Homo sapiens: one gene and its partner. The protein of the gene in region 1 interacts with the protein of each later gene in a biochemical or structural test. Each region holds a gene or a part of one and is shown on either strand. Other genes may lie near its edges. The genes, in order: CLDN1 and TJP2.

Region 1 (12,127 bases):
CCGGCTGCCGGGGCTGAGGCGGGCGGAGCTGCTTTAAATCGCGGCGCCCAGCGGTTCTGCGTCTCAGTTCCCGAGCCTGGGAGCAACCGCAGCTTCTAGTATCCAGACTCCAGCGCCGCCCCGGGCGCGGACCCCAACCCCGACCCAGAGCTTCTCCAGCGGCGGCGCAGCGAGCAGGGCTCCCCGCCTTAACTTCCTCCGCGGGGCCCAGCCACCTTCGGGAGTCCGGGTTGCCCACCTGCAAACTCTCCGCCTTCTGCACCTGCCACCCCTGAGCCAGCGCGGGCGCCCGAGCGAGTCATGGCCAACGCGGGGCTGCAGCTGTTGGGCTTCATTCTCGCCTTCCTGGGATGGATCGGCGCCATCGTCAGCACTGCCCTGCCCCAGTGGAGGATTTACTCCTATGCCGGCGACAACATCGTGACCGCCCAGGCCATGTACGAGGGGCTGTGGATGTCCTGCGTGTCGCAGAGCACCGGGCAGATCCAGTGCAAAGTCTTTGACTCCTTGCTGAATCTGAGCAGTGAGTGCACCCCCACCTCACAGCGGCCGTCCAGAGGCCCCAGTCCCCCTGCAGCTCCCTTATGGGCTCATTCTGTTGTGTGATTCCATGGTTATCAGTCTTCAGTTGATCAAGTCTTCTGATCATGTGCTCTGTCATAAGGAAATGAAGAGAATCCTGGTTTGAGGAAAGCGACGCCCAGGCATAAGCTCTAGTTTTGCCTCTAACTCCCTGGGTGACACTTCTGCCACTCTAGGTGTGGCTTCATCCTAAATTCCTATGCTGGTGGTTCGAGTTGAGGGAGTGAAGGCCAAACTTGAACTTGAGCTCTTAGACCTCTCCTAGGCATTCCGAGATTTGGGGTAAATTGAGGATTGGTAGAGTTCAGACAAGAAAATGGGATGACTGAAAAAGTTTGAAGCCTGGTAACTTCTCAAGTGTGCACGCTTAAATAAATAATCCTCAAGTATTAGATATAACTTTTTAACCTTTAATATGATTTTTTCATAGTAAAAGTTACATTCCTACTGGAAATGTCCTATCTAAGTGTCTTCTGCTTATGCTTGAGGTTGATTCTTTTAATTTATAAGATCCAGTTAGTGCAGGGAGGCCCCTTGCAAGACTCTTTGGAGAAGCTGCTTGAGATTCCCCCGAAGTTTTAATTTTCAGACCCAAGGTCTTCTGTAGAGGCTGACGGTGTAGTGCTATCTTGGAAAGAGAAGGTTGGTGGCAGGTGGGGAAAGGCTGACAAGAAAGGTTCTAAATAACCTGCGCAACATAATACAAAGAAAAAAGTAAAGGCACTGAAGGGAAATGCAGCAAAATAGTCATAGCTGATGAAATCAGAGGTCAGCTGGGAGTGGAAGGCAGTGAGAGAGAAAGAAGAGGTGGGTCTTCCTTAGGTTTCCATCTTCCACAAAGAAATTTCTGTGTAATGGATGTTCAGTGACCCCCTGTAAAACTGGAAAGGATTGTATAGAGAGACATATTTCTAAGGATGGTGGGAAGAAGGATAATAGGATAATTGTTTTACTTTGTTTTTTAAATTAAAGGTTTCGAGTTCCTTGTCCGAAAAGTCATTAAATTCCCATTTACTTAGATAATAATGATTCACGGCTGGAGTATCTTCCTTGAGAAATCACATTAATTGTCTTATATCATGTGTCTGTTATGCCCTTTAACTCACTTGAAGAAAAGATCCCTTAGTCTTTGCCTAGATGAACGTGACTGCCCACTGGCCCCCATTGCATGCTAAGGGTGAAAAGTGTTGGCATTGTTCAAGTTTACTTAACTTGTTTTGTCTACCTCCTATCAAGGGACAACTTTTAATAGTGTATATCAAAAGCCATATAGTTTAGAGTTATTAAACCTGTTCCAAATCTGTTTGAACACCTTGAATACCTGTGGCATTTGCTCAGTCAATGTGCATGGTTGTTTTGAGTGTTATTATTTCAGCTTTTGAAGGTTCTCATATCAGGACTTCTTTACACCAAAACCAATCCATAAGTTTAGTAATTATGTGTTGCTCATTGCCCTCAGGGGTTATATTTGTACTTATAAAATGAAAAATTTGGTAATAATTATTGAATTTCTCCATGGAAAGATAAATATATTTAAGGAAACGGTGTCAGGCATTTTAGGTACCACGTTAAGGAATTGGCAGGTGGAGGTTTCTAAGGACAATTCCAGAGAGGTCTCACTGTCAGTTTTATTCCTCTGATCAAAATAGTTCCTTTTCAACATCTTTAAATAGGTTTTCTTTTAACTTCCTGAAATGACCAAATGAAATCAGATTGATCTATGTTGTAAATACTCAAATGGATCATCCTTACACATGATAATGTGTTAAAATGTTTTACTTTCATTTTTTGGTTAATGTAGTTATTACAGTTTTTAAAACTAGGGTGAAAGGACTAAATACCTACCCCCCCACACACACTTTAGAGATGTCTTCCTATTTTTTTAAAACTCCAGATCAGAATCCACTTTTATTTTACTTAAAGCCATAGTTTATCCAAGGTGTGGCTTAGGCCTTTCTCTCAAAACCCATTCTCAGAAGAGGGACCCTTGACTCACAGGTGTTCTCCTCTCACCTGCCGTGACTCACGGGATGCTTTTGGATAGAACCCAGGAAACCTTACTTCATTTCTCTGCCTGAGCAGTGGTGTTTACGCCCACCAGCTGTAGAGATCTGGGATGGTGATTCATTGGCTGGTTTTGGTACAGTTTTGTTACATGTAGAGATGAAAAGGGTTATGTGTGTATATTTAAGCAGTATCACTCAGAAAAAAGCTGCATTTCATTAAGTGTGTTTAGGTGAAAAGCTTAGCTGTGGGTTTCCCGAAATTGTACCTTGCCGTCTTTCCCAGTAGAGCACACTTGTCTTCCCGGCCAGATGCAGGGCTTTAGCACGGGAAGTATTAAAATCTGTTGTTTCCCTGCTTTATGTAGGGTAGGTCATAAAAAGCATATGACCTTCATAAAGTATCTGAAGGAATACAGTGTGCTAATAGTGTATACAGTAAATACAAAATGAGATAGAGCAAGGCTTCTTCTTTTAGGTAGTTCTTGCCAAGCGGTTTATGAAAATGTAACTGAGGCACTTCCTGGGGAAACAAATGTCACATTGTGTATTGTAGTTTTATAATGGCTGATACAATTTCCATTTCATCCAAAGTATGTGATTTTATTGACCCTGGGGATTCTTGTAGCTGAAAGTTGGAATATACAAAAAGTGCCAGATACAGTTGTAGTAGACTTTTCTTGATTCACCTGTACCTCTCGCCTTGTTTTCATCTAATTCTCAAACTTTTAGGAAGCTCGCGCCAATTTTATGTGCTTGCTTAAATGCTTCTTCTTACTTGACTTTAATAGCTAGAGCTGTCCAAAGATTGAGTTGCTGTAGGAGGCTGCATGGTGGGAGGTGTGCAAGCAGAGAATAAATAAGCATTTTGAAGGAATGTTGTAGGGAAGATCCAAGCACCAGACAAATGGGAGGTTAGGCTAGACTCTCTCTCAATCTCACCGAACCCTGAGATTCTGTAATTTGTTTATAAGCTCCTCTAGCCTGTTTAACTTGCTTTGCATGAATCCACATGTGTGTAGGTGTGCTTAATGAGTATTGGTGGCTGTGAGCTTCCCCAGCACTCTCACCATGATGTCAGGCTCAATCAGAGAGACAAAATCACTGACGTGGACAGTCTTTGAAGCCTAAGTGGAGAGGAGGGCACCTATTTATGCTTCTCCAGATGCGTTGTGCCTGCTGAACCGAGGGTACTCGAAGGGCCATTGGTGTTCAGATATACTTCATAAATTAGTTCTGACTCTTAGAATAATGGAAGTTGAAGCAAAAATCCAGGCTTGAGATCAGAAATTCTCTGTTCTTACTGTGGTTTGGCACTAAGTAGCCAAGTGTATAATGGTGAGCCACTTGATCTCCCTGGTTTCAAGTAGTTACCCCACTTATAAAATAGGGCAGAGTGGGAGGAATGGGGAGATGAATCTATGATTCGTTTATCCATTCAACAGATGCAAGCTAGGCCCTATTCTTGCTGCTAAGGATGGTGCAGCTAAGATGAGTTCTAAGATTCCTTCCAGTGCCAGAATTCTTTGTTATTACTTCAGTGATTGAAGGGGAAGAGGCAAGTCACATAGCTTAGGTTTCCTTAATTGGAGTGATTAAGGAAATATAATGGAGGTAATATAGAAGCATCAACTTAATTCTGAGAAAATTTCTTGAAGAAACACACAAACAAGAAAGGTAGCAAAACTTCTGAGGACATCCTGAAAAGTGGTACATCCTGCCTCATCCAGGATCATTTTCACTCCTGATTTTGCTTATGTTCTGAGTTCACATCTGGTGACCATCACCTCATGCACCAATAAGAGGGAAATGCTAATGATTAGGACTTTTATGAAACTTTGAACTTCCGTAAAAGTAAAAGATTTAATATGGAGAAAAGCCAGGGGAGTACACTTCTGTGACTGTCTGTGTTGAGCTCATTTAATTGCAGGGGAGAAGGAAGCACAATATTTTTGTTCTAGTCACCCAATCATCAGTTCATTTATTCACTTAATACTTATTAAGCAACTACAGATGCAAAGGGAGAATTGGAATCTGCAGTCAACATTTGAACAACACAGGTTTGAACAGCAAGTGTCCACTTATAGGTGGATTTCTTTCAACCAATACCGATCAAGAATACAGTATCTGAGAGTCCAAAGCCTGCATGTAGGGAGGGTTGACTTTCTGTATACAAGGCTTCCACAGGATCAACTGTAGGACTTGAGCATGTGCAGATTTAGTTACCTGTGGGTGGTCCTGGAACCAATCACCCTTATATACCAAGAGATGACTATATTTTGTTTATGATATATAGAACCTAAGGTAATATGGCTAGAAAATAGCATAAACAATGTCTGGTATTGATAGTAGATTCTACTACTTGTGTAGCAAGACTTTCAAGCTTTAGAAAAATTACATATATGTCTGTCTTTCTACACATTTGTTGATTAACCTAAGTGTAGTAGATCAGTAACTTCCAACTCACTTCTTGTCTTATAAGTAGAGATCTTTGTAAGTATTTACTTTTAATTCTACTTTCAGGTGGAAAATGATGAGAACTCCTTAGGGGGTCTTTAATCTCAAGATTGTCAGTCTAGCTAAATATAATTAAAAGACTGCCTTCTGTGTTTACTGCTGAATAATGATGAGAAAAAATAGTGTAATTTTTTTAATGTTTGCTAACCAGGTTCTCCATAGACAACTTTAGTCAGTGGTCATAATATTGTAGATTTAGCTGCAAATTTAAGAGGTGAGAAAAGGAATATGTTTGTTCCTAGGTTTGTTCTAATCAGACCAATTCAAAGTTAATATTGCAAGGCTATACAACATCTATCTCATCCAAATTGTTGTTTTATAGCTTTCAAACATCCTTTTTAACTTCTCTGCTCTGCCACTCATCATTCCATTAGGGCAAAAAGAAACAAAACTTAAGCTTTGAAGCTCATTAGATACATACTTTAAAAAATAGATCAAAATAAGCAAAAAGTACAATTTGTATTATCTGCATGAGTTTCTAGTTATCAGTGACCTAAGCTAAGTCTGGCTTTTAGTAGCAAGATTTTAGCATACCAGGCTCTCAAGGGAGGTATTTCTCAGTATTATTTCAAAAATTAAGCTAAACACAAGAGAATAAGTATTTTTACCTATCATATTGGTACAGATTTTTAAAGGATAAAGACATGTTCTAATTTAAATTTATTGAAATTTGATAAATCCATGTGACTTTTCAAGTACTGTGCTTGGTGCTTTAGATGGAAATAGGAATAAATATCTGACTCAAATCATCCAGGAGTTCATGATTACATACTTTACAAATCTGATTTAAAACACTTCTATGATGTGAAGGTATTCATCTGTTTCCGGCTTAAAACTGTGCAATTTAGATTTGATCTGCACATAAAACACTTGTAACTTGTAACACAATAGTTGCTTACTTTGACTGGTAACCTATCATTACCTACGCCTTGCTTGTGAGTTTTCGTGCTGTTTTAATTCTCAGCTTTTTGTGCGTGACTACATGTGTATATTATTTTTGCATTTTCCTCACATATAACTATACTTAAGAATTTATCCAAATATCTCCAATGAAGCAAAGCAAGATTTTGGGTTTGATGCAAATCTAATATTGGAACATACAAATAAATTGTATAAGTCAATAGTTGCCAGGATGTAAGTGAAAATATTACTTTGCAAAACGACATTTTAAAAAACAAAGCAGGATCTCATTTCTATGGTTTATGCAATTTTTAAATATTGTGTTTTCCATTTTCTCCATTACTTTTTGTGTATTATGCAAATAATATATTATTCTATAGAGAAATGAAACCTGATAGGTTTCTTAGCAATCATAGAACAGAATATCAGTCCCCAGCCCCTTGGAAAGAACACTTTGTAGATGAAGTGGCAAGATAGATTTGACACGAATCAAATGTGTTTTCTTTGAGAACTTAATGGGCAAAAACTTAGAGATTAAAAATGTGAATATTAGGTCATTCCAGGTGGGTGCAGTAAGGGCCCTGGAGTAGTTTATGCACATGTGTTCCTTGCCTGGGAGATCAGGGGTTTTACACAGTCCGACTCATGAGATTGATGCCCAGTTAGACTTCTCTTGAAGACTACTCTGCGATCTAAGTGCTCAGACCTGCTGGGCAAGTGACCTTCTGTTTTTACTTGAAGAAAAGATCAGTGTGATTATTCTATAAACTGGTCCAGTTTGGGGCCCCACAACTTGAACAAAGAGAAAAACTTGGAGCAAGATCAGAGAAAACATCTAAAATGATTAATAAAAGGTTGAAAAAGAGTATTTATGAAAAAATAAAATGGAGGAGGCTGTGAAATGTAAGATGCTATAGATGCTTGAAGTGCTGTCATAGAAATATTTATTGATTGTGTGATCTCTATGCTGACAGTAAAAATCATGTCGCCCCTTTCTCAAGATAATCATATGACTTCTGATTATACTTAGAATAGAATCCATCTTCTTACCCTAATTTGCGAAGTTCTGCATGACATATGCCTTCTGCCCACCTTGCTAAACTTCGTTTTACTTTGCACATCCTATCATCCTGCGTTAGGATGACCAGCTCTCCCAATTTGTTCAGGATTGAGAGCCTTCTAAGGATGTAGGACTTTAAACTTTAAAGCTAGGACTGTTCCAGGCAAACTGAGATATGTGGTTTCCCTATCCTCCAGACATGGATCATCTTTGTTACTTTCAGCATCTCCTCTTCAGGCATATCTCTGCCTGAAATATTTTCCTGCCAAGTGTAATCTTAGGACCACATCTGAAATCTGTGTTATGTATGGGTTTAGTTATTTTATTTGTTATTTCCCAATAATGATAGCCTTTGCAAAAACCATCCATCAGAAAGAGGACATACCTTAACCATGGAGCCCTTGGTACTTTCCTCTTCATACCACAGTATGGCTTGTGATTCCAAGGAAAAAGTTGTGTAATAACCTTACAAGCAGCTTCAGTTCCTTCCTGGTAAACCTGTGGTCCGTGGAACATGTGTTTTGATCCAGCAGTTCCTCTGCCACCTGGAATCTTGAGATAAGTGTGTGGGTCAGTGTGCATGTGTGCCCATACATGCTTATGAGGAGGTCAGTGTGTGAGGGGAATCAGGAAGTCTCTTTTTTATTTTTAAATGAAATCAAGTAAAACTTAACCTTGGCTTCAAAAATATCTCTCAAATACTGTAAACAATACCTTTGATACTTTTTAGAAAGAGATTATGGCCAGGCGTAGTGGCTCACGTCTGTAATCCCAGAACTTTGGGAGGCCGAGGTGGGCAGACCACCTGAACTCAGGAATTTGAGACCATCCTGGGCAACATGGTGAAACCCATCTCTACTAAATACCAAAAAAAAAAAAAAATTTAGCCAGGCATGGTGGTTCGTGCCTGCAGTCCCAGCTACTCAGGAGGCTGTGGGATGAGAATCGCTTGAGCCCCAGAGGCAGAGGTTGCAGTGAGCCCATATCGCACCACTGCACTCCAGCCTGGGCAACAGAGCAAGACTCTATCTCAAAAAAAGAAAAATAAAGAGATTACTATAATTTTATCATAGATTGCCTGGTTATAGCAAAGACAGAAAATCAGTAAATCAAGATTTAATGAAGTTTTAGAAATATTTAGCTTCAATTATGATTGGTGACCTAAGTTCTCAATCTTGACAATATTAACACTAAGCCTAGGCCTGATTAGATATTGAGATACAAAACCTTTCCAACATCTCAGCCACTTTTAAAGACCATCAAGGAGTCAATTGTTCCAATCCACTGGATAAAGATATAATTTACATTTTACTTATATAATTGAAATATTATTCCAAACAATACTAAGTTTCTTGCTCAAGATAGCACAGTTTGTTAAAGCTAAAAAATACTTATATATGCAAAAAACACTTGTCACATATTATCACTGTCAATGATATAGTGATCTTTAATTAAAGGAGGACATAAATCTAGAATTTAAACAAAATCTTCTAACCAGCATAGTTTCAGTTCATATTTAAAAATCTGTGCCTTTATGCCACAATGATGGCATCAAGTTTTTACTCTTTAAGAAACATAGTGATAATGTCTCAAACTTGACCCTGTTTATTTGATCATGAGTTAGTACACCAAAAATAATGATGGGAAATTAGAAAAAATGGAATCCTGAGAAACACTACATTGAATTATTGTGTGTGCTATTTTACAACATGGCAGCTTAAATAGTTTTAAAAAACTAGTGATGTCTTTGAATATGAATCTACTACTATGTCCCAAGGTAACATCTCAAAGGTTATTTTGTTTAGTTTTAAGAAAATGACTTCTATATTCTTCCCCACTCCTCCTATTCACATCACTGGAGATACAAATACTGCTTATCCAGCCATGATAATCTATAAAACATTTATTTTTTATCTTCCAATTCATCCAGTTTTTCTGAAGCTTATTGATTGGGGTGTAAAGCTGGTGACTAATATCAAAGATATACTGTAAACCATTTTGATTACAAATAGTTAACATCCAGGATAGTATATATGATTGTTACTTAAAATTAAAATTATCTTAGCAAGGATGAAAATCCCTTAGTAAAAAATAAATATGTATTAGTTCAGCTAACCCTATTCAATTAGATCATTAATTAATTTTCCAGTTGATTTTGAATTTAATGTTGGAAACATAAAATATTGGAGTGGAGGGATCTCTTTTTCATCATCCAGCCTGGCATTTGTTTTTCTGGAGAAGATACTGTATATTGGGTTACCAGCGGAAACATCAGTATGACTGGGGTCTCTAGATTCCTAGTCCAGTTTTCTCTCTTCCATACAACAGTGACATATACTTGGTCTTCTTCCATTTTTCTCTTGTTGGTCCAAGCATATTTTTACATGTTTTAAAATGTTTTCTGCCAGGCACATTGCAAGCAACCCGTGCCTTGATGGTGGTTGGCATCCTCCTGGGAGTGATAGCAATCTTTGTGGCCACCGTTGGCATGAAGTGTATGAAGTGCTTGGAAGACGATGAGGTGCAGAAGATGAGGATGGCTGTCATTGGGGGTGCGATATTTCTTCTTGCAGGTAATAGAGGCTGTGCCCCCCTTTCACCTTACTAACCTGTTCCTGGTATGATTTGAAATCTATTACGTTGGATTCATTATACTTGATTTCAGTCTCTAAGGCAAACTGCAAACATAGACCTGAAGTCCAGTTGACTTTCATGTTCTCAAACACAAACTAAATGAAAATGTGAGAGCTCTGCTCACATCTGACAGGTCTATTGGTTGAAGTTTCAAGTGGCAACTGGTTTGTTAGAACCAGTCTCTTCCAGTGAAGAAAGTTGTTCACTATTTAGCAAACGCTAAGGAGGAAGTTCATGTAATTCAGATAATTCCTATGGTGTCTCCACAGATACTATGTGGAAAAGATGGGGAGTAGTGAGAGAAAACACAAGAATATGTGAACCCTTCAGGTCTGTGAGGGATGGAAGGATTGGGATTATTGGAGAAAAATAAGGATAGCATTCCAGCTGGGCAGATCTAATTCGAGAATAAACAGGATGTGCCTGTAGATCAATGAAAAGAAAGGCCAACTGGAGTAGAGGTGGCCTGTTGGAATGGTCAGTTTAAAGCAGTTAGGAAAAAAAAAATACAGAAATACCTTTAAATTTTTTTGATAAAATAATATTATATTTTCCATTTAAAATAAATACGTGTTTTTTAGGCCAGGTGTGGTGGTTCACGCCTGTAATCCCAGCACTTTTGGAGGCTGAGGAGGGCGGATCACCTGAGGTCGTGAGTTCAAGACCAGCCTGGCCAACATGGTGAAACCCCATCTCTACTGAAAACACAAAAATTAGCTGGGTGTGGTGGTGCACGCCTGTAATCCCATATACTCCAGAGGCTGAGGCATGAGAATCACCTCAACTCGGGAGCCGAGATCGCACCACTGCACTCCAGCCTAAGCAACAGAAGACTGTCTAAAAAAAAAAGAAAAAAGAAAAGAAAAGAAATATCTGTTTTTTAATTCAAGTGTTGATTGATAAGTTACATTATGTGTCATTTGAGAAAATCAAAGTCAGAAAACATGGACAGCATTATTTCAAAGCTTTATAATAATGCCTATTTAAAAAATTATAGTGTATGTATACTTACGTGTGTATATGTACATACATATGCAATCTCTCTGTGTGTATATATATATCTTTATATCTATACACTGTGTTATATATGTTGATAATCTCCATATAAATTATACAGCTATAATAATAGACTACTATATGTTCTCTATATTAGGTATTAGATGCATATATTATATATGTAGTATATTATAGTATATTATTTTAAAAAAATAACAGATATAATTAATGATACAAATCTACTAATAGAAAAAAACTAGAATAGACTTTATTTTCTTATTTTCTTTTTGACAGAAGACTTGTAGGGGCTTTTGCTTCAGTATAATATGTCAGTTTAACCAGTAATTGAGGAAGAGTATCTGTGGCTTTGCTAAAGATGTGGTTAGTTTAAAATGACCAGTCTCTCAGTTTACCCAAATACAAATTGACTCCTCTCTGAAAAGGCATGGATAGTGTCTTATTCCCAATAATTTACTCTTATATCAAAGGCTGCGAATAGTAATCTTTGTGGCCATCGTGGCATGAAGTGTATGAAGTGCTTGGAAGACGATGAGGATGAAATGCATTGCATTCTTCCTTCGCTTGCCTTCTTGTAACTCCCACATGTGACTGCATCACTCCTATTCCAGTTTCAGGGACTTCTCTTAGGAGTAAGCATCACAAGTTCAAGACCATTCGCATGGTCTATTTGAGAAGCCAAAAGCAATAGTGTTTTCTGTCATGTCTAGAGGCAATTACATTGGACCATGTTTTTGGCTGGGGAGAGACAGTAGCATAGAAACATCTAATCTATCTATATTGATGAATACTTAGAATTACTACAAAAAAGTTATTTAACTTTTTTGATAAAAAAATGAAGTATTTTATACATCTTATAAATGATTAAGTGAATGATTTTGACTAAATGATTTCTCTGCTATCATTGAATATAAAATGCCATGGGAAATTGAGATTGGGTTGCATAAATTGATCTGATGTGGCACCCTCAACAAATCTCAGGCCAACCTATACCTATATCAGGTATTCCCTTGGCCAATGGGGCAGTAGTAATGCAGGTATTCTGGTCCATTCTGAGACATGTCCTGATCTCACTCTATCTAGCTGCTTGCATTCCTTTTGACTCTGCAGAAATGTAAATTTTGAGTTTGATCAAGAACATAGAAGAGTTTTCATCTTCCCCTTTTGCAAGTAATTCTACCTGTACTAATAATGACAATAGTTTTATCAAATGTAGTTTAGTATCCTAATGTATAACAGCATATTTAAAAGAGATTTTGTACAACATACACCTGCCTAATTGTTTCCAAAAAAGAATTATTTGTGCCAAGATATCATAAAAAAGTATAAATTTTGTCTAATGCCAACCTAGTATTTTTTTATATTTTAATAGATACTTGGAATAAATCATATCTGGACTTCTAATCTCCCTAATACC
Region 2 (12,127 bases), on another chromosome or scaffold:
ACAGTGGCACGCTAGACCCCCTCTAAATGGGCATGCAACAGCAAAGGTATCCAGCTAGGGGGCCCAGCATCTTCCTTCTCTTTTCTGTGGTCAACTAGCTAGTCTATATAATCCTTTGAGAAATCAGGAATTAAAATTCTATAATTAGCATAAAAGGGTAGCCCCACTTGGGTCTCTAAATCCATAAGTCAACTTAAATGATCTTCGAACCATGCACTGAGTACTTTGAAGATTCCAAGAAAACATGTAATTCAAAGTTTGTTTTTTAAAAATAAAAATTTGTGATATGCAAATGTATTTTATAGAAAATTTTTAAAAATTGGTAGTAGGGGAGGCAAACCTAACACTTAAACTTATTATGACAAGTCAACTTGCCTTTGGGCAAATCTCAGAATAAAGCTTCTCTTGTTTAACTGAGAAGTACTGTAAGACTTGTAAGGAGAACTATTTTCATATTGTCATAATTAAATACTCGTGAGGAAGAGGAGCTTTCTTATTACTTTGCAAAAAGGAAAACAAAAGGATATTGAGCCTAAAGAGACTAATGCAACATAAAGCTTGACTTCAAATTACTGTGTTCATCAAAGCACTCTATTATTCTCAACTACTAACTCACAAAAATGCCATACACTTAAAATCATTTTAAAAGCCTACAAAATAGGCCAGGCACGGTGGCTCATGCCTGTAATCCCAGCATTTTAGGAGGCCAACACGGGCAGATTGCTTGAGCCCAGGGGTTTGAGACCAGCTTGGGCAACATGGGTAAACCCTGTTGCCAGAAAAAATACAAAAATTACCCAGGCATGGTGGTGTGTGCCTGTAGTCCCAGCTACTGGGGAGGCTGAGGAGGGAAGGTGCCTTGAGCCCAGGAAGCAGAGGTTGCAGTGAACCGAGATCGTGCCACTGCACTCTAGCTTGGGCGACAGAGGGAGACTATGTCTCAAAAACAAACAAAAACTATAAAATACTAATTCTGCCTGAAGATTCTACTGCTCAAATGTAAAGACTAGTGTTTCTGGACATGGCACACAGCCTCAAGTCAAAACCTGGTCAAGCTAAGAGGGACGAGGGTGAGATGGGGAATAAAAGCAATTATTAGTGCAGTCATCCACACAGCTGTAGGGAGTCAAACTTTGAAGTCTGGAAGAGTACTGTAAAAGACCACTTGCTAGAAAATTGGAGCTTGCTGGTCAAAGTTGCTGCACACCCTGCACCATCTATCCTGAAGACTGTACAATTCTACATAAGAGATTGGCAATTTCTGGTGAGATAAGATCACTTCAATGTTTTAGATGAAACTCAATGCTTACAGTGTGTGCTTCCATTCCAATCTCTGACTTGAGTTATTCTAAAACTTTCAACTTCCTGATGAGTTTAGGCAAGAAATGGCTTGGTGTGCCAGGGGCAGTTCTAATGTAAGTTACAAACATTTATGCCTTGCCCATGTGCTAGTCCTGATGCTGGCCTCAGGCACACAACGCTGGGAAATGTTCAGGCTCTGCCTTCAAGGATCTTGAAATCCATCTATGGAGCTAACAGAGGTGTTGCTAACCCCTTCTACACACATGGACCCCTCTAGATTCTTACTCACACTCAGCCAGCTACCGTGGCCTGTGCTCCCAAGAGCAAATGATGCGGACTCAGGTTAGATCAAGGGAGAGCCCCACAGTCACTGGCTGCCTTCTTCTGCCCTGCTCTCCTCGTCCAGCCGCCTTCAGCCTAGTTCTTCCTCTACAATGCACTGTAATTCCCTTCCCGATTTCCTACATCCTCACGTGAATCCCAAATTTAACTCTCTGAGGGAAGACGCTCGCTATTTAGTGTACTCAGACAAAAGCAGGGGGGAAAATAAAGTGGGGATAGTTTTAACTTCATTTATAATCACTTTGGCTTCAGTTTTTTAATCTGTCAAAAGGAAGGGCTGCATTACGTGACCCCTTTTGGGATTAGAATATGTCTGTGCTGTAACATATGTACAATATTGGACAGTTAGGGACGCTATAGTTTAGTCTGGGCTCAGTCATACATCAGAATTGTGATTATGCAAAAGTGCTGGCCTTTCTTATGGCCTAATAAGACAGCACACATGGAAGGCTGTACCACTCTTTACTGTTGCTATAATAGTAATAATCATAATAATTATAATACTAGTAGTAAAAAGGACAGAAAGGATATTCATAAATATACCAAGAGTATGAGTACGTAAGACTACATTCACAGAAATCTAGTTTATGATGGACCACTTCCTCCTCTGCATTTGGTTAAACTCTCTCCATTTGGCCACAGTGGCAAGTAGTGCACCTCTCTTTAACAAGAAAAACCAAGTTACACTAAAACAAGCATCTAATGTGAACACAATCATTCACCCCTTCCTCTCCAGTATCAGAGATACACTAAAATGACATGGGTGGATGATGATGGGCAATGAACTCAATGAGCTATCCTCATCCTAAGGATATCATATCCTTGCAGTCTCCTCGTGTTGCCCCAACAAAATAATGCCCTGCATGACCACAAAATTTATGTAACCCTTTAAAACTCTTAATAATCTCATATGCACAGAATTAATCATTTATATAGACAGTGCATATATTGTTACTAAAATATGTCATGTTCTTAGACCATTTTACTTTCATGAGTAATAGCAATGGCTCTTCATTTCATGGACTTAAAAATATATTCTATTAGGTAAATCTTTAAATATGTACAAAAGTACAGATAGCAGTTTAATGAACTCCGATGTACATATCAACCAGTTCAACAACTAACAACTACCAAGTCTTGGCCAGTCTTGTCCTGTCTATAATCCCATCTACTCCCCTCACTGCAGACTATTTAGGCAAATTCTCAACATTATATTAGGTCAACCATAAATATTTTATTTAGTATGCATTCCTCAAAGAACTTTGTTTTTAAAAAAATCACAATATTATTATCACACCTAACAAAGAGAAATAATAAATCTTTAAATCATCCAATATTCAGAGTGTCCAAGTTTCTAGATTTTTTTTTTTTTCTTTGAAGAGACAGGGTCTCACTCAGTCACCAGGCAGGAGTGCAGCAGTGCCATCACAGCTCACTGCAGCTTTGAATTCCTGGCTCAAGCGATCCTCCAACCTCAGCCATAGGCATGCACCACCATGCTAGGCCTTTTAGTAGAGACAGGATCTCACCATGTTGCTCAGGCTGGTCTCCAACCCCTGGGCTCAAGTGATCCTCCTGCCTTGGCCTCCCAAAGTGGGAGGATTACAAGTGTTATCCACCATGCTGGACAGGAATATTTTTAAATAATGAAACCAAGTTCCTTTCGCTTTGTAAGTTAATGCATGTATTGATGGTGAGTAGAGAACAATGACACAATCTCTAGAGAGACATAGGTGTTTGGCCTGGCTCAATCACTAGCCTTATAGTCTCACAGGAAAATATGAACTTCATCAAAATAGCTAATTATTACCACATCATGGATCTTTATGGTCATTTTCAAATAGACAAAATTACAAAGTTCAATATATAAATGCCATTGGCCTAATATCCCATTTTATAGGATTAACTATTTTTCAAGGAGTCATGAACACAATTTCAAATTCTCCATTCAGATTAATTAATTATTTCTTCTACTCTTCAATTCTTTATTTCTCATTTTTTAGCAAAGGGACTACATTTACATTTCACTTACCTGTAAAAAGGTGTGCACACGTTTTTTTAAGCTTGTTGGCTTGATCAAATAACTTTCGAGAACTTTTGTTGGACGTTGGATTTAACCTTTGTCTCATGGTTTTGACACCTTGTCTGGAGTCTGGGTTGAAAAAAATCACAATTGGGAACCACTGGGTGTAATTCAACAGGTCCACAGCTTTCGGAGTCACATCCAGTAGTGCATGCTTATCCTGTTTACAAAAGGGGAAAAGTTAGAGAAATGGATATATAAAGTAATATAGCATCAAATACTTTGTTTTAATAAGTAAAGGCTGTATGAGATATATCTTGTTTGTTTGTTTGTTTACTTATTTGGGATAGATTCTTGCTCTGTTGCCCAGGCTGGAGTGCAGTGGCACAAACTTGGCTCACTGCGACCTCCGCCTCCCGGGTTCAAGCAATTATCCTGTCTCAGCCTCCTGAGTAGCTGGGATTACAGGTGCCCGCCACCACCATGGCCAGCTAATTTTTGTATTTTTAGTAGAGACAGGGTTTCACCATGTTGGCCAGGCTGGTCCCAAACTCCTGACTTCAGGTGATCCGCCCGCCTCTGCCTCCCAAAGTGCTGGGATTACAGGCATGAGCCACCTATCTTGTAAATTTAAATCAAGAAGCAGAACACATTTCCTTCTACCTAATGCCCACTTCAATATTACCAATGTGTTAGAACTTCTGATAAAATGAATTAACACATTATTTGGTATAATGCTGGGAACTCTGGAAAAAAAAACAGTATGTTACTGCCAGAGAACAGTAACAGTGACTGGTTTCCACACAGTGAAATGGTTTGCATTTACATTATATATATATTTTTTTGAGATGGAGTTTCACTCTTGTCGCCCAGGCTGGAGTGCAATGGTGCAATCTCCGCTCACTGCCAACAGTGACTGGTTTCCACACAGTGAAACGGTTTGCATTTACATTATATATATATTTTTTTGAGATGGAGTTTCACTCGTCGCCCAGGCTGGAGTGCAATGGTGCAATCTCCGCTCACTGCAAACTCCGCCTCCTGAGTTCAAGCGATTCTCCTGCCTCAGCCTCCTGAGTGGCTGGGACTACAGGTACCTGCCACTGTGCCCGGCTAATTTTTTATATTTTTAGTAGAGACAGGGTTTCACCATGTTGGCCAGGCTGGTCTCGAACTCCTGACCTCAGGTGATCCACCCGCCTCAGCCTCTCAAAGTGTTGGGATTACAGGTGTAAGCCACTGTGCCCGGCCAATTTTTTATTATTAACATTTAATGATTAAAAGTACAGATACTATCCTAAAAGTGACTGCAGCAAACCATAATCTAATTCTTTCTGAAAACACGGTCTGTGGATGAATTTTCTCACCTGTTCAATAATTTGCCTCACGGTATTTAACCGGACCACTCCAGTGGATTTCTCAGATCCTGCATCTTTTGGTTCCGTTTCTGCAAAAGCAAAAACAGGAAGCTAAATAATTGTTTAGAAAACAGTGACAACCAAATACTCCCACCTAGCATCAAGCAATGATGGCACACCTGACATTAAGTGTCTCCTAACAAGATTCAGTGGGAAGGACCCACATAACCTGCTTAGTGGAAATCTAATCATGAAGAAACGGTTAGGCCAGTCCAACAGGAAGCATTCTAGGAGACAACTAGCTTGGATTCTTCAAAATATCAGTGTAACAAAGTTATTTAGAAAAAAGAGGGGACTGGAAAGACATAAAAATCACAAAAAGACATAAAAATCAAATGTCATGAATGGTCCTTGGTTGTATTCTGAATTTAAAAAAAAGCTATGAAGCACATAACTAGGACAATTAAGAAAACGTGGAAAATGGACTATATACAAAATCACACCACATCAATGTTACCTTTCTTGGCTGTGATAATGGTATTGCAGTTATGTGGGAGAAAGTCCTTGTTCTTAGGAGATTCACACAAGTATTCAGGGATAAAGTGTTATAAATGATTCTGCAGAAATTTTTCAAAGAGTATGTGTATGTGTGTGTGTATGTGTGTCTATGGTGCAGGCAGTGGGTGAGAGAAAATGCGTGACAAAATGTCAGCAACTGGTGATTCCAGGTGAAGGGTACGTGGGTGTTCATGATTCTTCCAACTCCTCTGTTAGAAATTTTTCAAAATAAAAATTTGGGGGAAAAAAAAACACTGACAGACTTACTAGCAGTTTGAAACCAGTCAGGTAACTCATTAGCCAATTTTTCCATTGCTATATCAGCTATGGGGCCGAATAAGACCACAGGTCTCTTGAAACCAGCTGAAATGACAAGAAAGGCCATTAAAGCATACACACTTGCCTAGCTGTTATGATAAGCAGTAAAAGTATTGTATGGGCTTTTGATAACATAACTAAACGAAAGAAACTGTGGTTTCTCCCCAATTCAGCTTGGCTCTGTTCTGAAGAATATGCCTTCACTATCCTCACCATTTAAAACAATTTTTTTCTTTTCATTCAACCACATGCTAACCTAGATTTTTTTTTAAGAGACAAGATCTCACTATGTTGCCCAGACTAAACTCAAACTCCTAGGCTCAAGCCTCCTGAGTAGCTGGGACTACACTGCCTAGCTCCTCACCATTTTTAAACACAAACTTTCCCATTGATAATATATGGAAACTTTTTTTATTTTTTGCAGAGATGAGGTCTTACTATATTGCCCAGGCTAGTCTTGAACTTCTGAGCTCAAGTGATCCTCCCACCTTGGCCTCCCAAAGTGCTACGATTATAGGCATAAGGTACAGTGCCCAGCCAATATACCGAAACTCTTGAACAGTGGTATTAAAACATTTTTTAAGTTGCAGAAATAAGCCTCAATTTAGGAACTGAAACAGCTTTTTATAAATCATGCTCCTTGTTAGAATTTGATTTCAACTCTATAAACTGCCTTTGGCATAACTGACATACATAAGTTAGAACTTGACCATACAGTCTGAAAATAAAGGTGAACAGGCTCAGAGCCCAGTCAGTTCATTTCCAGGCCCCATGTGACTTCCTCACCTTCTCGCAGCAAAACCCTCTCATAAGCTGGGAACTTGGTGCTGACAGACACAACAGCTGTGAGGTCTTCCCGACTTTTCCTCAGGTTCTTCTTCACCCCAGACCTCTGGCCACGCATTCTCCAGAAATCTGCCCGGTCCCCAGCGTTGTCTCTCTGGGCATTTTGAACACTGGCCATTTGTTCAGCTCTGAGAAGAAACCACGGGAAGTAAATCTCTAAAGCCAGAAAACGCAGCTAACATGCATTTCATTAATCAAATCCAGTCAATTTTACTTCTGAGCTCAGAGAAGATTCCGCTTGACAATGAAGAAGTTTCAGAGGGTGGGAAATGTGGGGACCTTCACTTCCAAATGGGAGCAGAAAAAGGCTGGGTCTCTGTGAAATCTCCCAGAAGTGGCTCAGCAATAAACATGTGAAATTTGGCCCATTCTGATATGCAGGTACACAGTACACACACCTGGAACTCCTGCTCAAATACAGGCCTCTTTTCTAGGTTCCTGCACTGTCAGCCAAACACCAAGTGTTCACTGGGGTGCATAAACCTCTCCAAGGATGGAGACTGGGCACCGGACAAGGGTACCTTGTCTCTAAGAGGTGTGCTGGTGTGCTACGGCCATTCAGTATATCTCTTGTATACGGTACAAGGCAGTGGATGCTCCTTAGGAAGTTGTTCAAACAGCCACATTCAGCAACCAACCACATGATGCTAAATTTACTCACAATAAACTGGCTGGTGGCTATTTACAGTTCAGGCCACTCTCCATAAACAAGAAATAGATGGTGACAAGTAATGAACTCATCATGTGGGGTTTCCTTTTACGGGGGAAGGGGGGCGGTCTCTAGTTTTCTGCAGGGGGAAGGATTAAAAGGGGTATGTGAGAATGCGATCTCTGTTACCTGCTCTTGTTGGGGATTAAGCCTTTCTCCAACTCGTTCCCAATCCTCACAGCCAGCCAGTTGCCCAGCTTGCCGTCATACAGTGTGTCTACCACTCGGAAGACCTCCCCTCTGGTGAAGGCCAGGCTCTGTGGAGTTTCCTTCTCACATTCAAAGTGGCTTCTTATAAAAAACGAATCCCCTCTGCCACAAGCCAGGATGTCTCTATACACTGAAAGACAAAAGCATCGTTTGTTGCATTCAGCTTAGTACAAGTTACAGTACTAGACACTCAACACAGCTTCTCCTATCTCTGATCTCCCCTTTACCTTCCTTCCATTCAGTGCACAAGTCCTATGGGAGTCACAGCTCCAACAGGAACAAGGACAAATAACCAGCTTCACGGCTTGCTGCAATGGTTAATTTTATTTCAACTTGACTGGGCCATGAAATAACCAGGTATTTGGTCAGACTTTATTCTATGCCTTTCTCTGAGGGTGTTTTTGAATGACAGTCACGTATAAATGGGTAGACTGAGCAAAGAAGATCGCCCTCCCCAATGCGAGTGGGCCTCATCCAATCAGTTGAGGGCCTGAAGAGAATGACAATCAGACCCCTTCTCAATTAAGAGGAAACTAGGCTGGGCGTGGTGGCTCATGCCTATAATCCCAGCACTTTGGGAGGCCAAGGTGGGTGGATCACAAGGTCAGGAGATCGAGACCATCCTGGCTAACACAGTGAAACCCCGTCTCTACTAAAAATACAAAAAATTAGCCGGGCGTGGTGGTGGGCGCCTGTAGTCCCAGCTACTCGGGAGGCTGAGGCAGGAGAATGGGGTGAACCTGGGAGGCAGAGCTTGCAGTGAGCCAAGATTGCTCCACTGCACTCCAGCCTCAGCGACAAAGCCAGACTCCGTCTCAAAAAAATAATAATAAATAAATAAATAAATAAATAAATAAATAAAAAATTAGGAGGAAACTACTCTTCCTGCCTGATGGCCTTCAAAAGGCGACATCAGCTCTTTTCCCTGACTTGGTACTGGAACTACACCATTGGCTCTCCTGGTTCTCAGGCCTTCAGACTGAGACTAGAACTAAATCACTGGCTCTCCTGAGTCTCTATCTTGCCCATTTTCACTGCAGATCTTGGCACTTGCCAGTCTCCATAATTATGTGAGCCAATTCTTTATAATAAATCTCTTTCTTTCCTATTGATTCCAATATCTCCTATCATTCTGTTTCTCTGGAGAACATTAACACAGTTGCCAATCAAGCTCTGAAGCAGACAAGGAGGACACTCTCAACACCCACTTAACAGATGGGAACAAGGCCTGGAAAGGTGAAACAACTTGTCAGACTGGACAGGGGTAACAGGCGCACCAGCCAGCAGCCATGGCCTTTGCACATGTCGTATGTAAACTCACTAATAACTCCAGGCAGAACATAAGGCTGCATCACTGTTCAGGAAGGCAGTTTTATTCCAAATTGACACAACTAGTAAAATTATTTCAGTGCATGCATAGAAAACATTTTTATGGAAAGTTAAACGGCACTCACATTTTCTTCACACACCTAGGGCCCAAGGACTAGGTGTTGAGATCCATCTCAATTTTTTAATACCCAGATTTGCCTATTCTGGTACCAAGACACCTCTCTCATCCTTCCCACTCCCCACCCCCACCCCAACTAAACTAAATGACCAAATTTGCTCACCATCGGCTCGGCTCTGAGCTAAAATGGTCACCATTTCACCTTTAGGGATTTCTAACAGGTAGAGAACGGCATCCTCCCGCACTAATCCTCTGAAATCCTGTGTGTTCACCTATTAGGAAGGAAAAACAGAAAAAGAAAAAAAAAAAAAAGAAAGAAAGAAAGAAAGAAAGAAAGAAAAAACAGAGAAGTTTATAGTAAGATGCCACTGACCCTTTTGTTTGTTTTCATCAGGGCCTGTCCAGAGCAAAGCCAAGATGCAAATGAGTCCTTAATGTCACTATTCAAGTCCTCGCGCCCAGCACCTTGCTATGGGCCTGCACACTATACCTTCCTGCCTCCCCATACTGCCAACCGCACCTTAGAGGTTAAGCCATTGAAGCAAGGATCTGTCACCAGATCACAATAGAATTTCTTGTGGTTGTTTCTATCCATCTCCCTTCTGTGAGTCTCTCACAGAGGTGGCCAAGAAGGTAATACACAAGTATGAAGCATGGGGAGTGTTGGGGTCTGTGACAACTGAGCATGCTGGCCCAGCATTTACACTAATTTTAAACTGGTTCAAATAAAAGTGTGCAAATAAAGACTCTGACCAATTCTACCCTTCTCCTATAGCTTCTATCACCTAAAAGTGTTTAACATGTGTTTATAAAATTGAAAGGTATGTATCAAATTAAAGAGCATCAGCCTTACAGTTACAAAGCAAGTAAAATTGAAATGTAGCACAAAGAACAAGACATTTTGAAATCATAGTGCTATGTGGTTTTTTTTTTTGAGATGTAGTCTCCCTCTGTCGCCCAGGCTGGAGTGCAATGGCGCGATCTTGGCTCACTGCAACCTCCGCCTCCTGGGTTCAAGCAATTCTTTTGCCTCAGCCTCCCTGAGTAGCTGCGACTACAGGCATGTGCCACCACACCCAGCTAATTTTTTTTGTATTTTCAGTAGAGACAAGGTTTCACCATGTTGGCCAGGCTGGTCTCGAACTCTTGACCTCAGGTGATCCGCCCACCTAGGCCTCCCAAAGTGCTGGGATTACATGCGTGAGCCACCACGCCTGGCCCATAGTTCTGTATCTTTCAGCCTATTTTAAAACAGAATTATAAATAAGTAAAATGCAAAAACCATATTAAAGTACCTGATATGTTAATAATATTTTGTAGAAATAAAGATATAAAATTCCTATGAAATATTTTCTTCAGTCATTGACAATTACAGAATCCTTTTAATCACAAGAGTAATGCTTTATTAAAGAAGAAACTTATCCTTAGTTGGGTGGGCCTTAATTAAGGCCAAAATTTATGATTAAGTGAAAGTCGGCATTAGACTAAAACTAATTTGGTGCTTTTAAAATAAAGTGATGTGCTAAAGCAATTGAGTTAATTTTTCCTTTGAAACAGTATTTAGTATTTAAGGTACTGTCATTTGTACCTCTCTGTCCCCCAATTAGGAATCATCCCATTTTGGTATCCTTTCTTGTGCCATTTGTTTATCTACATCTGTATCTACATATAGCCATATGTATATTTTCACATGTACTATACATGCTTGTATTTGTTTACTTAAATAAGACAGGGCCACAAGGCTGTGGGAGGACCTTGGGAGTCCTTCAGTCCATCTCTCTGGCCACAAGAGATTAACCTTAGATCAGTCTCGATCACAGTCTTCGATAGCCAAAAACTATAATGGTCAAAATTAAAGCACACATGGTAGTTATATTTTAAAAATCTACATGGTTAATAACCAAACTTAGAAGTCTTTTTTCTCTTTTCCATCCCATAAAAGTTTCTGAAAGAGAAATGACAACTCTATCAGATAAATAACAAGCAAAGAGGTAGTTCAGCCAAGCAGGAATGAGCAAAAGCACATATATCTCCATTATTGATAAGGAATATACATATCTGGCTCACGTCTTCATTCCACACATTAGGCTGTCACCTTTGCAAAACAAAGAGCCACACTTAAAAACCCCACAACAGAATAAAGTGATTAGCATGTGTATAAGGCTCACTTTATATATTCAATTTGGCCATGAAAAGGAGCATTGAAACAAATTAAAGTGAAAAAAGGCTAGGGCAGCACTTTTCTACTTGAAGGTTACATTGAACAGTCCTTTCCAATAAATATCCTCTTTGATTAGCTATTTAGTAGTCTACAGGGTCTAGCCGTGTCTGCTGTGAGCCTGAAGAGGATCCTGTATCAGCCACAGCTTAGTATTGTGCAGCAGCTTCTCCGCCCTCGTAGGCAAACTCAATCTTTTTCACCCCTTTCTAGAACGGAAAGCTTCTTTTGTAGTCAACAGAAAATTTATTCGCACCCAAGAAATGAGGACCACCTATTGCCTGACCTCCATATGGGATGACAGCAAAAGAAGCCAGTTCCCAGAGTTCCTTCCGTGTTGCCAGGGTGATAACAAGAAACAAAACACCTTAAGTATAAATGCTGATACCATGACTTTTTATCCACCAAAGCGACTCTCCCCATCTAACAACAACTTACAGAGAGGTCTGACTGCCAAGCCTCTAGGTGAATTCACTACTTTTCTTCACGGAAATTTAGAAAATCTCCCAGCCCCTGAACATACGAAAATATTTTATCATTGAACCTTAATGAGCAAAAGCTCCACATTTCTAGCTATCATCCTATGGCCTCACAATAGTTAGAAAAAATGCCTTTTTCCTTCATCAGCATATATGCAAAGAGTAAACTGGTATGAGCTGGCACTCAGATGGGTTTTCATCAGTAACATTTGGTGAGTGGTATTTCCTAGGATCATAAGGCAACATGAGGTTCGTGCAGGTACATAGTCTTCTAGATCCTGACCAGGGCCAAGGAGGGTCTAGAATTTCACTGAAAA

The links.
Region 2: the proteins of CLDN1 (region 1) and TJP2 form a complex in vitro, tested with the Homo sapiens proteins (one study listed by BioGRID).

Annotation. Positions count from the first base shown.
Region 1 is NC_000003.12:190,310,380-190,322,506, reverse strand, and holds the start of CLDN1 (claudin-1), read left to right. Parts: upstream 1-60; 5' UTR 61-300; coding exon 301-523; intron 524-7,447; exon of another isoform or gene 7,448-7,614; intron 7,615-9,470; coding exon 9,471-9,635; intron 9,636-12,127.
Region 2 is NC_000009.12:69,231,697-69,243,823, reverse strand, and holds part of TJP2 (tight junction protein 2), read right to left. Parts: intron 9,386-12,127; coding exon 9,277-9,385; intron 7,797-9,276; coding exon 7,586-7,796; intron 6,876-7,585; coding exon 6,688-6,875; intron 5,947-6,687; coding exon 5,851-5,946; intron 5,115-5,850; coding exon 5,035-5,114; intron 3,888-5,034; coding exon 3,677-3,887; intron 1-3,676. UniProt on the Homo sapiens protein: Plays a role in tight junctions and adherens junctions. Acts as a positive regulator of RANKL-induced osteoclast differentiation, potentially via mediating downstream transcriptional activity.